2 separate regions of the Homo sapiens genome follow, and region 2 is linked to region 1. The links come from fine-mapping of genetic effects on gene expression. Tissue or cell type: tibial nerve. Region 1 holds a variant in brackets; the other region holds the start of a gene. All regions are shown on one strand. Distances are between the middles of the regions.

Region 1 (8,099 bases):
AAATTGAAGAAGGACTTGGTTGAGTTGCAGCTGACAGGGCGTTAAGAATGACTTTTGGTCATGAAGCAATGATTCTTAGCCGATAACTCGGCAGTTGTTCTTGGAGTGGCAGGAAGTTCCTCTATTGCTCTCCCCGCTCCTGCTAACTCAGCCATGAGAGCAGGTTTCTTGGCACTTACCTAAGTCAAAACGCAGGAACAGCATTGCAGCTGAGGCCAGCCTACTTTGGCAACTAGTGAGTTACCCAAAGAGACAACAGCTAGTCAGAAAACCCCGGATGCATCCACCCCATCAAGAACTACATTTCTATGAGACACCTTTCTGTGAAATGATGGTGTACCAAGATGTGTCACATGTTTATGTTGTTTGATCGATTGTATACTAATACTATTAGGTTGTTGCAAAAGTAATTGCAGTGTCTACATTGTCGACTCAGTGCAGAGAAAATGCTAACACTCAGTGCCTCACAGAAAATTTAAAAATTTGACCAGCCTGGGCAACATGGCAAAACCCCATCTCTACTAAAAATGCAAAAATTAGCTGGGTACTGTGGCTCATGGCTGTAATCCCAGATACTTGGGAGGCTGAGGCACAAGAATTGCTTGAACCCGGGAGATGGAAGCCGCAGTGAGCTGAGATTGTGCGACTGCACTCCAGCCTGGGTGACAGAGAAAGACTCTGTCTCAAAAAAAAAAGTGTGAAAATTTAAAAATTTAAATCCCATTTATAGATTTATAAATATGTAATATTGATATATATGTTGTAGAAAAATTTGATAGATGATCAGTAAGGACTTTGAAGCATAGAAATGTATCCCATGAGGATAAAATTACAGGAGGGAGGTGGGGTGGCAATGTGAATTCGAGTTGGCAGAGGTGCGCGTGCCATCTCTGCACAGGAGGAGTCCTGCCCTATTTATTAAGGAGGGGCAGTCAGATGGGGGCGATTTGTCGTCCAGGAGTGATGGGCCAATTTTGTTGCTAAATGTCAATGATTATAATGTGCTGACAATCTGAGCCTCTACATTCTTGTGAACTTCAGCCGAACATTTTAGCTGTCAGCTTGGTTTTTCCTGATTCTGTTAAGAGGAGAGAGCTTTAAATTTGAGGTCCTGGCATAGGGGGACAGCTCCTGGCCTGGGAGGGCCGAGAATCCTTGCACTGCCCACCTGCTCCCGGGTCTGACAGAAGATGGGATTCTGAGATTTCCTTTTCTTGGTAGATGAGGAAACTGTAAGTCCCTCCCATTGCTTTCTTTGATTGTTGAGGGCTCTGTCTCTCCCTGGAGCGGTCCCCCCAATGCCCACACCTCCTTGCTCTCTGGCACGGGTTCTGCTGCCAGCATGGTGCAGACTGGGGGGCTTGGCCACTCTCAGATGCTGTCTGTCCATGTGACCAGCCCCCGTCTACCCCCTGCTGTCATGAGACAGCCAGGCCCCTGGAGTTCTGGACACCTTCCCAGTGGCTCACCAGGATGCCTGGAGCCCAGAAACATCCAGGTGCAGATGTACCCCATAGAGGAAGAGCCCTCTGCTCAGAGCCTCTGGCACCAGCTTCCACCCTTGTGGGAGTCTAAGGTGGTTTGGGAAGGGGCAGGTGGACCTTGATTCTGATTTGGCTTCAGTTTGCCTCTTCTTTCTTTGGGAATAATCAAGATCTGTGGCAGGCCCTGGGAGAATGAAAGGCTGGGTATCGGGTCTGAAACAAAAACAAGTAGTCGTTTTGGCTGGCTCCAAAATTCGTGGTTGGGTGGGTGGATGGAGCAGGGGTGGATCAATACCTAGTCTCAATCCAGGAAAGCAGTACAGAGGAAATGACAGGGTGCTGCCTCACAGTCCACAGGAGGACCAGCCCCAGCCGGGAGTCGGGCAGCTTCCCTAAGAAAGAAGGAAAAAGCATCAAAGTTCAGTGGAGAAGTTCCAAAAAGTGTCTCATAGGAGTCCCAGGGAGAGAGTGGAGAGGAAAGAATGATGGAAAAGCTGTATTTGAAGAAATGGTAGCTGAATTTCCCAGTATTGAAGAAAGACATGAGTTCTGAGATAAAAGGAGTTCCAAGTAGGATAAAGAAATGTGCAGTCATGGGCCATGTGACAGGCCACATATACAATGGTGGTCCCATAAGTTATGATAACGATATTTTTTTATTTTTTTGAGACAGGGTCTTGCTCCGTCACCCAGGTTGGAGTGTGGTAGTGTGATCTCAGTTCCCTGCAACTTCCGCCTCCCGGGTTCAAGCAATTCTTACGCCTCAGCCTCCCCGGCAGCTGGGACTGCAGGCGTGCACTACCGTGCCTGGTTAATTTTTGCATTTTTAGTAGAGATGGGGTTTTCACCATGTTGGCCAGGCTGGTCTCGAACTCCTGACCTCAAATGATCCGCCCGCTTCAGCCTCCCAAAGTGCTGGGATTACAGGCGTGAGCCACCGCGCCCAGCCTGTTAGGATAACCGTATTTGACTGTACCTATTCTGTTTAGGTACACGAATACTTCCCATTGTGTTACAGTTGTCTACAGTATACTGTTCAGCACAGTAACGTGCTGTGCAGGTTTGTGGCCCAGGAGCAACAGGCTCTACCATGTAGCCTAGGTCTGTCGGAGGCGGGGTCATCTAGGCTTGTGGAAGTCCATTCTCTGATGTTTGCACAATAATGAAGTCAATTGACAACACCGTTCTGAGAACATATTCACATCGTTCAGAAATACCTGGGAGTAAATCCACACTGAGATGTATTGTGGTAAAGCTGCAGAATGTCAAAGATGAAGAGAATCTTTAGAATTAACAGAAAAGACAGAGTAACTACGAGAAATGGAAAAAGCCCCGCAGGTTTCTTCTCAGCAACCCCAAGTGCCGCAAGATAGAGAATGAGCCCACAGTGCGGCGGGAAGGCGACTGGCAGCCCCGAATTTTAGACCCAAATGAACTGCTAGTGAAGGGGCAGAAGGCAAGATGAAGACATTTTTCAGGCAAACATTTTTAACCATTTACAGATGCTCGTTGTAACATTTCCTATTATAAGATGTACATCAGCAAGAAAAGGGAACTCGGAGGAAAGATGATGGGATAAAAGAAACAGCTGCAAGGGTGGAAACTGATAAAATGTCAGCGAGTTTAGCTCATAATTGTTTAAGAAATTATGTGTGTCCTAAAATAGAGATAAAAGTAAAGCCCTAGGCCGGGCGCAGTGGCTCAACGCCTGTAATTCCAGCACTTTGGGAGGCCGAGGCGGGCGGATCACAAGGTCAGGAGATCGAGACCATCCTGGCTAACACGGCAAAACCCTGTCTGTACTAAAAATACAAAAAATTAGCTGGGCGTGGTAGCGGGCGCCTGTAATCCCAGCTACTCGGGAGGCTGAGGCAGGAGAATGGCGTGAACCCGGGAGGTGGAGCTTGCAGTGAGCCAAGATCGCGCCACTGCACTCCAGCCTGGGTGACAGAGCGAGACTCCGTCTCAGAAAAAAAAAAAAAGTAAAGTCTTAGACCAGTGCTGTCCAATAGAAATAGGATGTGAGAGCTTTGGGTGCAAGCAACACGTATACACTTTTATTTTATTTATTTATTTTTTTTGAGACAGGGTCTCGCTCTGTTGCCTGGGCTGGTGTACAGTGGTGCAATCTTGGCTCACTGCAGCCTAAACCTCCTGGGCTCAAGGAATTCTTCCATCTTAGCCTCCCAAGTAGCTGGGACCATAGGGTCATGTCACCATACCCAGTGATATGGTTTGGCTTTGTGTCCCCACCCAAATCTCATCTTGAATTGTAATCCCATAATCCCCACATGTCGTGGGAGGGACTTGATGGGACGTAATTGAATCAAGGGGGCAGTTCCCCCCATGCTCGTCTCATGACAGTGAGTGAATTCTCAGGAGATCTGATGGTTTTATAAGCGTCTGGCATTTCCCCTGCTGGCACTCACTCTCTCTCCTGCTGCCCTGTGAAGAGGTACCTTCTGCATGGTTGTAAGTTCCCTGAGGCCTCCCCAGCCATGCAGAACTGTGAGTCAGTTAAACCCCCTTCCTTTGCAAATTACCCAGTCTCAGGTATTTCTTCATAACAGTGTGAGAATGGACTAATACATCTGGCGAATTTAAAAACTTTTTTTTTTTTTTTTTTTTTTTTTTTAGAGATAGGGTCTCACTATGTTGCCCAGGCTGGTCTCAAACTCCTGGGCTCAAATGATCCTCCCACCTCAGCCACCCAAAGTGCTGGGATTATAAGTCTGAGCCACTGTGCCTGGCCAATTTGAAATTTTCTAGTAGCCACATTAAAAAAAAAAAGTAAAAGAAACAGGTGAAATTAATTTTAATAATATTTTATTTGGGGCCAGGCACGGTGGCTCATGCCTGTAATCCCAGCACTTTGGGAGGCCGAGGCGGGCGGATCACGAAGTCAAGAGATTGAGACCATCCTGGCCAACATGGTGAAACCTCGTCTCTACTAAAAATACAAAAAATTAGCCAGGCGTGGTGGCAGGCGCCTGTAATCACAGCTACTTGGGAGGCTGAGGCAGGAGAATCACTTGAACCCAGGAGGCAGAGGTTGCAGTGAGCCAAGATTGTGCCATTGCACTCCAGCCTGGGCAAAAAGAGCGAAACTCCATCTCAAAAAAAAAAAAATTATTTGACCAGAATATTGTTTTAACATATAATCAATATGAAAACTATGAGATCTTGCACATTCATGGTGAACTCTGAAATCTGGGGCTCCAATCGCCCCACATGGTAGGGTTAGAAGGGAGGGGTGGAGGCTGTCAGTGGGATGCCCCTTGTGTGTGGGGCGGTGCTTTCTCAGCCTGTGATAAGAGGTGGGGGCGGCACAGTCCTGTGTCCCGCCCCCAGGGCAGGCGCCACGTCGTTTCCTCTCCTCCTGGTCCATGGAGGAGTTGAGGGGTTAGTGTGTGGGGC[A/G]AGCTACCTCCTCACACCGTCCTTTAGCACAAGCAAATGCAGTGAGCTCAGCCGCTGCTCATTCTTGTCAGTGGGCATGAGCCAGCACCTGGCTGGGTGTGGATTCATTCAGTTTGGTCACCAAGTCGTGACTTTATCTGGGGGTCACAGTGTGAGCCACTGCTGTCCAGCAGGGGGAAGAGCCCGGCAGAACCCTTGGGGAGGTACCGGGGCCTCCTTCGATGCTGGCCCGGCTGATTGACCCTGGGTGATTTGGGCCTTGTTAGAACTTAACCCCCTACTGATGCAAAGTTGCTTAAAATCAGTTGGAATGACTTAATTATAACATTTTCCTGTAAAAAGAGGGCTTGAGGATAAGAAGAGAAAGCCACCTTCCCCGAGGCTGCGGGGAAAAGCTTTCTTGGAAAAGCCACGGTGGCTCCGCATTTTGCCACAGCAGCAGGGAGGGAAGGGGACGTGAGCCCAGGGGCCAGTGCCTGGGAAAGGCCACGGCACTTTCAGAGCTTTGTACTGGAGGTCTGAACTGCTGTTCATATCATCTGAGTTTACACTTTCATAAGCAGTAGAGAAAGACAAGGACTTAGGAGGATTCTGTCTGGAACCTCAGGGTCTTCCACAGGAGGACTGGGCTCTGTCCTTATCCACGGGCACCAGGTGCCAACAGGGGACATGGTCATCACATGCTGCTGAGCCACAAACCCACCGAGGAGGAGCCGAATGTGGCATGTGGGGCTGGGTACAAAGATATGTCCTAAGAACTTTCTAGAAAGAACATCAAGTTTCTGCCCAAAGGTGGGGAGATGAGGCAGGAGCCACAGCGTCTGATGTTGGGGTTTATATGAGTTCAATTTAAAAGTTTAGGTTTCTTTCATAGATATGTGGGCATTTTTCTATATGAGCACACAAATACTTGCTTAAAAACCAATTTTCCCCCTCCTCCTCCTTCTCCTTCTCCTTCTTCTTCTTTTCTTCTTTTGAAACAGGGTCTCACTCTGTCGCCCAGGCTGGAGTGCAGTGGCGCAGTCTCAGCTCACTGCAGCCTCAACCTGCCTGGGCTCAAGTGATCCTCCCACCTCAGCCTCCCTAGTGGCTGGGACTACAGGTGTGCATTATTACATCCAGCTAATTTTTGTTTTTTTTTATAGAGATGAGGTCTCACTGTGTTGTACAGGCTGGTCTCGAGCTCCTGGACTCAAACAATCCTCCCGCCTTGGCCGTCCAAAATTCTGGGATTACAGGTGTGAGCCACCATGCCTGGCCTGAAACAGGATTCTGACTGACATCTGTCCTTGTACTAACAGCCTTCAGCTTCTAACAACACTAGTTGAAAACACGTTATTATTTTTGAGAGAGATCTCTGCATGGGTTCTGGTTTTTTCCGTGTACTTGCACTCTGGCTGCCCCTGAGCTTTTTCTAGATTGGAAGGGCTGCACCTACGGACATGGTGGGCTGTATGTGACCATGCACACATCATGATTTTAGAGTAAAAACATTACCTTTTGCTGTTCAGAGTGAGGAGCTCTTGGAGACCCATGGGTTGGATGAAGCCCATCTTGGTGGATCAGGCAGTCAGGGCCAAGGTCAGGACTGGCTGGGATGAGGTAGCAAAGGCAGAGCCAGGGGCTGGGAGAGATGGGGGGCGGTGCTGAGGAGAGAGGACACAGGGAGGCAGGGCTTGGGGCATGACAGGGAGGGCCTGGGCAGGAATCCCTGTGCGTTCCCCTACTTTTTGGGTTTTGAAAGTGGAGAGGCGTGGCATGTGCTCTGTGCTGCTGTTTTATCATATACTAAAACCGTGTGGTATGCTGCTCACATCATCTCTAGCTTTTAGAATGAGCTGAACACATCAGTGCATTTGAGGGGCTCCGTGGGGAACGGAGATTCTGCCAGGGCATACGAGTGCATGTTTGCCACTGCATGGGTTCTAGAGCCCCTGCTTGAAGGTTTGAGACAATTAAGAATGGATCGATGTGTTCTCAGGTTCACACAGGCAGAAGACCAAGATGTTGACAGTGTTTCAGCTCCAGGAAACACTGTTTTTCTTTTACATTTTTCAGAACTTCCATACTTAAAATTATTTTTTTGAGACAGGGTCTCACACTGTTGCCCAGGCTGGAGTGCAGTGGCAGTGGCGTGATCATGGCTCAATGTTGCCTTAACCTCTGGGGCTCAAGCAGTCTTCCCACTTCAGCCTCCCGAGTAGCTGGGACTACAGGTGCATGCCACCACAGTCAGCTAATTTTTAAATTTTTTGTAGAGATGTAGGTCTCACTATGTTGCCCAGGCTGGTCTTGAACTCCTGGGCTTGAGCAATTCTCCCACCTCAGCCTCTCAAGGTGCTGGGATTACAGGCACGAGCCACAGCACCCAGCTCATACTTTTTATAATAAAAAATTATTTAAAAGTCATTTTGTATTTCACAGGCCCTATCAGACATGGTCACTCTCTAAGAAGGTCTGAGCATAGCTGAAGTGGATCATCTCATTCAACTTTGGGTGACTGGTGAATGCTGTCTGTCTGCCACTGCATTCTTGAGCCTTCTGTCCCTGTGGTGGGGGTGGCTGTGGGGGTAGAGGCTGGCTCAGGCATAGGGTAAGGGTACCCCGAGTGTCTGCCCAGAGACGTGGTGGTCTTCTGGTGGGCATGCGGTGGTTTTTCCCTCCCTAGTCGTCCAAGGTTGGCTGGCAGAGAGGCTGGGGGTGCTAGGAGGGCCCCTGGGTAGGGACTGGGTCCAGGCTGCAGTGAGTCAGCCATGGGGAGAGGCCTCGGGGAGGCTAGGTCTTAGGGGTGTGCAGCATCCTTGGTCCAGGGAGGCAGCTGGCTCTGCCATCATGAGCCCCAACCCTCGGAGTTTAACTGACACAATCAGCGAAGCCCTGGAGTGCCTGCCCCTGCCTCTGCGGAGGGAGTGACAGCCAGTGCCCACCCGTGCCCAGCCGCAGGCCCTCCCTCATCAGGTCCCTTCCCAGAATCCAGGCCCTGTTCAGAACCCCAGCACCCCTGCCTGCCCGCACCTCTGTGTACCCCTCCCACATGATGGGGTGATAGGGCATGGTGCCGTGCTGGAGGGGCTAGGAGGCCTCGATGATGGTGACGTCCAGGCAGAGACCCGAATCGGGTGAGTCAGGTGTTGGGTGAACCTTGAGGCCAAAGACCCAGCACTGGAACCTGCTGGGCATGCTGAGGACTAGAAGGAG
Region 2 (8,099 bases), 41 kb before region 1:
CATATTGATTTTAACTCCATTGATCAGGACTTGACTATCTTATATTTAAGGCAACTTTAAAGGTGGGCTGGACTAGGCTGGGCGCGGTGGCTCATGCCTGTAATCCCAGCACTTTGGGAAGCCAAGGCGGGCAGATCACTTGAGATCAGGAGTTCCAGACCAGTCAACATGGTGAAAACCCATCTCTACTAAAAATACAAAAATTAGCCAGGCGTGGTGGCAGGTGCCTGTAATACCAGCTACTTGGGAGGCTGAGGCAGAGAATTGCTTGAACCCGGGAGGCAGAGGTCGCAGTGAGCTGAGATCGTGCCTCTGCACTCCAGCCTGGGCGACAGAGCGAGACGCCATCTCAAAAAAAAAAAAAAAAAAAAAAGGGTGGGCAGACTAAAGCTTCTCTTTCCTTAGGAAATATTTTATAGACACAAATGAGATTATATGAGGAGGTTTAAATTCCATCAGACACAAAACAGCTCAACACTCTCAACCACTAGGAGATAACTCATTTACCTAAGATCTCAAATGTATGTTAATTAAAATATAGTCTTTTCTCCCGATTAAAGCCAGTCTCCTAAGGGTTGCTACCAAGTCATGCCCCTATGGCTTGTGCTTAAAGCACAACCCCACGTGGCAGCTTTTGCTAGTTGCTTTTCAATCTCCACTACCCCTTTCCTCCCAAATAAGAAAACTCTGATTTTTAGCTGGGTCTACTGCTGCCCAATTGAAAGATGGCATTTCCCAGCCTCCCTGGCAGCTGGGGCATGGTTGTGTGGCTAAGTTCTCCCACCACCTTCAAGAAGTGGAAAGGTGTGAGACTTCTGGAAAGTCTCCCTGAACGAGAGAGGCATATCCATCTTCTCTTTTGCAGCTGGTTCCTGGGCCGAGGAGGTGATGGCAGGAATGTGGGCAGCCATCCTGGATCATGAAGAAACGTGAATGGCAGATAGAAAAGCTGATCCTTGAGGACTTTAGGGCTGCCATACCAACCACGATTGCCTCTCCATGGACCTCTTTTATAAAAATATGAGTAATATTCTTGTTTAGGCCACTGTGATGTTGGGATTTTTCAATACATGCAGCTAAACCTAACTGATACCCCACTTCCCCAAGTTCAGCCTTCATCCCATGCACAATTTCAAACTATAAAACACAGGAAGGGAGCCTCTGAGCAGATACAACTGCTCCAGGCCTTGGAGTTGGCCAAGGATAGACCCACAGAGAACAGCCATTCACTCAGTGGACAAGCCCATCAAGTGTCTACCCCAAGATCCTGTGCTGAAGAAATGATGGCTTTGGGAGCAGCAGGTTTTATGGGGGAAGACTGAGAGTGTGGTTTGGGACACGTTAAATTTGAGAGGATCTGTTAGGCGTCCAAATGGTGAAGAACAGGTAAACAGGTCTGGAGTTTCAGGGTTGAGGCTAGAGATATAGGTTTTGAGAAGTTTGGGAGAAAATGGTTGTTTATAAAACCATGTAACTGTAGGAAATCCCCCAGGGAGGGAGTGGATAGAGTAGGTTCCAAGGACTGAGTCCAGGGTCTCCAGTGTTGAGAGGTCGGTGAGCAGGGGAGGCATCCAGCCAAGGAGATCAAGCAGGAGTGGCCAGGAGCGAGGAGGAGAAGTGGACAGTGGGATCTGTTTCAGCCAAGTGAGGATGCTGTGTCACGGAGAGGGCACAGTCGGCTGGGTCACGTGGTAGTGACAGTTCAAGGAAGAGATGAGCGCTGACCCCGATCATCGGATTTTGCAACATCAAGGTCAAGGATGACTTTGATAAAGAGCTTCAGAGGAGTGGTTGGGTGAAAATCTGATGGGAGTAGTTTCCAGAAAGAACAAGTGGGAAGGAATTGGAGATAAGGGGAAACTCCAGAGGGGTTTTGCCCTTCAGAGGGTCGACTGGGTGGTAGGAAGAGGAGAGTAGGGAAAATCAATCAGTTACTCAAAAATAAACATGGACCCTACCCCCAACTAAGAGAAATCTTAGATGCCAGCGCGCCTAGGCTCACATCGCGTCTGTTGGAATAAAGTGGTCATGGAGCCCACGGACCTTTCTGAGCACCTGGCACTGGCCAGTGAGGACAAGCAGGAACAGGTCAGACTTCTCAATTCTGAACCGAGGGGGGCATGACTTCCATCTCCTGTGTCTTACATCTGCACGTTTCACAACAAGCCAGAGACGTGGTGGTGGTGCGGCAGGGAAAAGTGCAGCGCTGTGGGGTCAGGCCGACCCAGATCCGCCGTGATCTGGATGCAACCCCCACAGCCAGGGCACGCCGGCCTCGTTGTGCCTGCTTCTCTGGCTGTCAATGGGAAGTTTAAGTGAGGCCACGTGTGGGTTTTTAGCTCTCTGCTTGACACATAGCAGGTACTCAGATTGAGGTGAGCGTTTTAAGGTACAAATTAGGGCACCACTGGGGGGAGTAGCGAGGGCGGAAGAGTATCTTTTTAGAACGCACCGCTGATAGTGGTGATTTAAAAAAAAAAAAAGAGGCACCGTTCACTTTCATCGGGGAGCTGGGAAGAAGACAGAAGAGGTGTTTGGGAGAAGCAAGATGAGCAGCGAGCGAGAGGGAACCGGCCGGCAGGTCATGAAAATCGGCGGCGCGTCGCCCCGCACCTGTCCCGCCCCCGTACCTGGCGGGCGCTCGGGGCAGCCGAGCCCTCCTGCCGCCGCCACCTGCCACCGCAGCAGTTTCCTGGGCCAGCTGGGGCTAAGGTGTTGGCAGTCGTCGTCCGTCAGCTCCCGGTAGGCAGGACGCCGCGGCTGTTTGGCGTCGTCACCTAGCAACCGGCGGCACGCTCCGCCGCCATCGGGTGGACTACAACTCCCACAATACACAGCGCCGCGGCGCGGCCCGGGACGCCAAGCCCTGGGCGCCACCTCCCCGCCATGCCTTTCGGGACTTGTAGTTTCTTGGATACCCGGGCGCGGCGGGTCGCCCCGCCGGCAGGGAGCGCGCCTCGGGCGGGGTGCGGCGCCCGCGCAGGGATTGGGCCGCCTCCGCCCCGCCCGCCCCGCCCGCAGCGCGCGGTGGGCCCGGGGCTCGCGGCGCCCTAGGCGCATGTGCGGCGCGGGGCGGCCGTGACCAGCGGAGCGCTGGGTGTCAGTGAGCAGCGAGGAGCCGCGCGCCCCCGTGCCCGCGTCTGTCCGTGCGCCCGAGCGCCCACTCCCGGGTCTGAGGTCTGCCCGGCGCGCCGCTTGCAGAGCATACTCAGGGCCGCGCACCTGCCCCGCGCACCTGCCCGCCGCCCGCTCGGCGCTCCGGGCTTCGCTAGCCAGCCTCCCTGCGACAGCGCGGGGGCTCCGGCCGTGCCTCCGCGTCCGCCCCGCGCCTCAGCCGGGCCCGGGCGCAGCGCTGCGGAGGGCGAGGGCCGCCCGGAGTCCGGCCAGGGCCGGCGCGGCGATGATGAACAGGTTCCGAAAGTGGCTCTACAAACCCAAGGTGAGCGGCCCCGCTCGGGCCGGACGCCCCCCGCGTCGCGGCCTCTCCCTTCCCCAGGACCGCCCGTCCGCCCTACAAGACGGACTCCCTTTCCCTGTCCGTGGCCGGCCTCTTCCCCCACCGCCGACATCCTTCCCTCCACTCCAAGACTTGGACAGATCTTCATCGCCCTGTCTCTGAGGCGGATCCGAACCTCCCTCCCGGCTTCCTAAGCCCGGGTCCAGGACTGACCCTCCTGCTCCTCCTCTCGGGCCGGGGCGCACTTTCCCTCCCCCTCTATCCAGGGCCACAACGGGCCCCTCTCCCTCCTCATCCCGGTCCTGGACGGTGCCCTCCTACACTTCGTGGTCCCCAGCCCGCGGGCCCGGAGCAGACCCCCTACTACTTCTCCGTCTCCCCTCCCTGCACCAGGAATGCCCCCTCATTCCCGTCCTGCCCCCACCCCCATTGTCCTGGGCCCGGAATAGATCTCCCTCCGCACTCCAGAACAGACCCTCTCCCCACTTCCCCAGGTTCTGAGAGAACCCACATTTCCCAATCCCTGGGTCCAGGGCAGACCCGTCCTTCCATGTCCAGAGAGGATCCTGATGGCCCTGCCAACGGCCTCCCTTCCCGAACCAGGACTGACCCACACCTCGGCCCAGTTCGCGTCCCCTCCCTTGTCCCTATCCTTGTCCCTTCCCCACCCACGTCCTCTGGAATCCGGGACAGGTCCTCCGCCCGGCCCTTGGGGCGAGCGCGCCCGTGGCCAGCAGCCTCGGCGGGGCGGGAGGTGCGGCTCTCCAGCCGGCGCCCGCGCCTCTCCTAGCGCCGCGGGGTCGGGGTCCGGGCGGCGCGCCCCGTGCCTCAGCGGCTGCGCCAGTCGCACTGCGGGCGCTGCGTCCCCGCCGCCCGCCTGGGGCTCGTGCCCGCTGCAGCCGGAGCAGGGCCGGGCGCGCTCGGCGCGGGATGAAGGCGCGGCGGTGTTCAGGATCCCGGCGCAGGGTCCAGGGCGCATCTGGGCGTCCGAGGGTGGCACCCTGGGGCCGGCGCAGCGGGGAGGCCCGGGCCCTGAGATCTTGGGGGAGGTCACGGCTCGGGTGGGGTCACCGCGGCGACCAAGGGCGGGAGTGGGGCCAGCGCTTCGTCCGGGCAGCTCGGACGTCCGAGGCCACCGCGTTGCCGACCTACCCCTCCTCCCTCCACTGGCCGCCTTTCTCCGTCCAGCGTCCCAGGCCTCCGCCTCCACCGTGGGTGAGCTGTCACGGCAGAGGTTTCCTGAAATCCGTGCCTCGCGTGCGCCCATTCCAGGAAGGCGGGAGGTGGGTTTGGAAGATCGGCACGGAGGTTTGAGGGCTCACTCAGGGCCCCGAAGGGCGCGTGCTTCACGGCCTTTGAGGTCGGGGAATTCTGTTTGTCGTTGCCGGAGTGTTGGGTTGAGGGCTTACGGTACATGGGGCGCCCCTTGCTCGGCCTTGGCTTGATTGGGAGGGGACTCGGGGGGATTCAGGGTTCCTGTGGCGTCACTCCCTGCTCCCAACCTCCCTGTCCCTAGCAGCGACTTCTTAAGGGTTCGTCCCGAGCCTTGCGTTTCCTGGCGCTGGGTGTGGTTTGGGGCCGAGCCGTCTGCGCCCAGCCTCTCCTCCTGCGGCGCCTTCGAGCCCCTCTCGGTCCTGCCTGCTGCCCCCATGTGCCTCTGCCGGGGTAGGGCGGTGGCCTCCGCTCTGGATAGCTGTATGAATGGTGTTTGGTTCCAGTGACTTTTCCTCACCAGTTACTGAAAACCAAGTCTGCTTGTAAAACGGCGTTTTGGGGGCGTGCAGCAGCATTATTTTCTGTGACAAATGGCGGGAGGCAGCTGGAGAAATGTGTCTTAGGTCTTAACTAACATTCTGGTGTCGCTGAAGGCACTTGCTGGGACACTAGGGGATGCCCCTCCGGACGTGGCTGTGGAAGAGGCCGCATTTGGGGGATCACCCTTCTAATCGTGTTGAAAAGGAAGGAAAAATAATTGTAGACTCTGTTTCATGAGTAGCTGAGTAATTTCAGGATGGCCTTGTCTGTTTCCGTTTAGGGAAGACAGGTTAAAGGTAGAACATGGTACTAGACGTTGTCCTGAGAATTAGGAATTGCGTTCCCAACTTTTCCTCTTCAGCAGGCAGCTGCCTTTCCAGGCAGGCGGCGGGCACCAAGAGGGCACAGCCAGTGAATCAGCTGATCCCAGGGATCAGCCCAGAGCTGTGTGCCTCCGGAGAAGGGATGGAACAGGATTGATGTGGATCTCTCCTTTTTCTCGTTGTCTTCTCCTGGCATGCTGTCTGGTAGTAGCTCCAGAGCTCTGGACTTGAGACGTATCTCCATTTCAGATCTGTCTCTGGCCATAGCATTTTTCTGGGAGCTGGTGCCCTGTGGGCAGTCTGAACTTGGGCTGTCTCTTATTTGAGAAATGTCTTTGGAGTTAAATATCTTGATTGTTTGAAGGGTCGGAGTATGTTATGTCACTCCATAGCTTTTCATTTTTCAAACCAAAGCTCAGATTCTTGCCTTGGATTATGAATTGAATTTTATGCTTCCCCTTCCTGTCTAATTTAACACATTTTGGCACAAATAAGCACAAAGTCAGTCCTGGGAAGATTCTGGGCCTGGAAGAGTTGAAGTGTTAAACATTAGCTGTGGGAGGATGTGTCTGGGGGAGACTGTTGCCTGCAGTCAGGAATTTTTTTCCCACTTTGTATTTAGATAGATGTACAATTCAAACTGAATTTTTAATTGAATTCCTGCTTTGGTTTAAAACTGCACAGCGAGCTTCTTTTTATAAATTTTTAAGTGTGTGTGTGTGTGTGTGTGTGTGTGTAGAGACAGGGTCTCACTATGTTGCCCCGGCTGGACTCAAATTCCTGGCCTCAAGCAATCCTCCTGCCTCAGCCTCCCGAAGCACTGGGATTACAGGTGTGAGCCACTGTGCTTGGCCAGCACTGAGCTTCTTGTTCATCACAATATGGTGGAAAATATTCTGAAATGAAAATATTATTCACTGTTCTTATAGTTATAAAAAGCAATTGGAAATGCTGAAAAATATTCCTGTGTGACATACATTTTGATATCTGAATAAAAATTAGCTACTACGTTAGCTACCTAAGTTGAGTAAAAGAATGCCTGATGAATAATACAAAAGTTTAACATTAAAATGACATTTGCAAATTATATTTCTATTCACTTTCTTAATCAGTCTTTTAAACACCAATATGATTTTTCTTGGTATAAAGTGTTCAGATCTTGTAAGTATTATCCTGACTTTGAACACTCCCAGGAAGAGACGGTGCAGGAAAACCTGTCAGCTTGTCCTGCTTTATTGATGTTGGTGAAATACTTTCTTGCCTTTCTTTAAAGTCTTTTCAAGAGAGTTTATGCTTTAGAAAGGCAAACCATTTTGGCATGGTTGGTGTCTTCATCTGAAACAAAAGTCTCAGTGCTGTGTTTCTTGCTTGGTTATGACTTTCTATTGATTGACCTGGCTGGAAGTTCCTGGTCACTAGGAGGTGAGAATTCCCGGCATGGGGGAGAGGGACCTGGACACTTACCTGGACCTGGGAGAGATTTCCTGGCCATCACCAAAGAGCATATTAATATCACTCAGGATGAATTTGTGTTTTCCATCTTTGAGGAGGAATTGACCCTCAGTGGGTTATGCTGGCTGGGTGGATGGGGTAGTTCCCATGTGGCTGGTTACCATGCTCAACCTTGCACTCCGAGAAGAGCTCGCTTGTCTGCACCCCCAGACCGTTTTCAGAGTGGGGGCTATTAACCTTTCTTGTCCCCCCGCTTTGTAGGAGAACATTCCTTATAAATCTGCCTTACTGAGTGATGTGTATTTGGCAACTTCCTGTAAACATTCCAGGCCCAGATTAGCGATGACATGGCCTTTGCCAAGAGAAGCCTGAGTGACTTGCTGGGTGTGTGTGCTTTATGAAAGAAGACCCCTTTGGGTTTGGTAAAGTCTGCCTGGGTGCCAACCCCACTGGCATGTTTTGTGGGAACCTGCCAGGACTGAGCAGTACTGAGTATGGGACTTCCTGCCCTTCGGCTCTTGTTAACCCAGCCTCAGTCACCTGAGGGTTTTCGGGGTTCCAGCCCACTTGGTCATGGGCCCTTGAAGAGAGCTGCCCATTGGTGGCCAGCACTCTGTACCTTGGCCACCTGGTTGAGAGGGGCGGCACCCTGGAAACGAAGTGGCAGATGGGGGCGGGCCCCAGAGTGGGGGGTGGGGCAAGGTCTGGATATATCTGTTTGGTCCCGAAGTGCAGAGATGAGGCGCAGCCCAGTCCTCCTTTTGGGGCTCCCCACTGGTGGCTGAGGGTGAGGGGCGATGACAGAGATCCCCCAGAAGTATACAGCTGGGGCTTGGAAGGCTGTGGGAGGGGTCTTGGTGGACACTGGGGCCTGGCACGAGTGGGGCCTATGAGAGGGCAGTCACTGGCATGTGCCTTGACTTCCCTGCTTTGCGTCACCTGGGAAACGAATGGCTGTCCCTACAGCACTGCGTCCATGCCCCATGCCAAGCACAGACCCTGTTCCAGGGACTTGGGATTTGAGTGATAACTTCTAGCCAGGCTACTGATGAATTCGTTTTCAGCTGATAAACTCCAAGTGCCCAGCTGTGGCAGGGGGTTGTCCTTGGCCT

Evidence for each region. PIP is the estimated chance that this variant, and not a neighbour inherited with it, causes the effect.
Region 2: it holds the start of ZFYVE28, and the variant in region 1 is fine-mapped to the expression of ZFYVE28 in tibial nerve (GTEx, PIP above 0.99). The same link has a PIP of 0.9 or more in esophagus muscle and whole blood.

Annotation. Positions count from the first base shown.
Region 1 is chr4:2,372,392-2,380,490 of GRCh38, reverse strand. The region is part of intron 1 of ZFYVE28 (zinc finger FYVE-type containing 28); the gene reads left to right. It overlaps LOC107986249 (a long non-coding RNA gene), which reads left to right and starts at 6,047. Exons shown (of 2, transcript XR_001741550.2): 1 at 6,047-6,139; 2 at 7,326-8,099. The variant A/G (reference allele first, on the strand shown) is at 4,902.
Region 2 is chr4:2,413,625-2,421,723 of GRCh38, reverse strand. It overlaps ZFYVE28 (zinc finger FYVE-type containing 28), which reads left to right and starts at 3,079. Exons shown (of 13, transcript NM_020972.3): 1 at 3,079-3,439. The coding sequence starts at 3,401. CFAP99 (cilia and flagella associated protein 99) reads right to left here and starts at 2,769. Exons shown (of 16, transcript NM_001193282.4): 1 at 2,631-2,769. RefSeq lists silencers at 2,555-2,604, 2,845-3,074, 3,195-3,354 and enhancers at 4,360-4,918, 4,919-5,477, 7,912-8,099.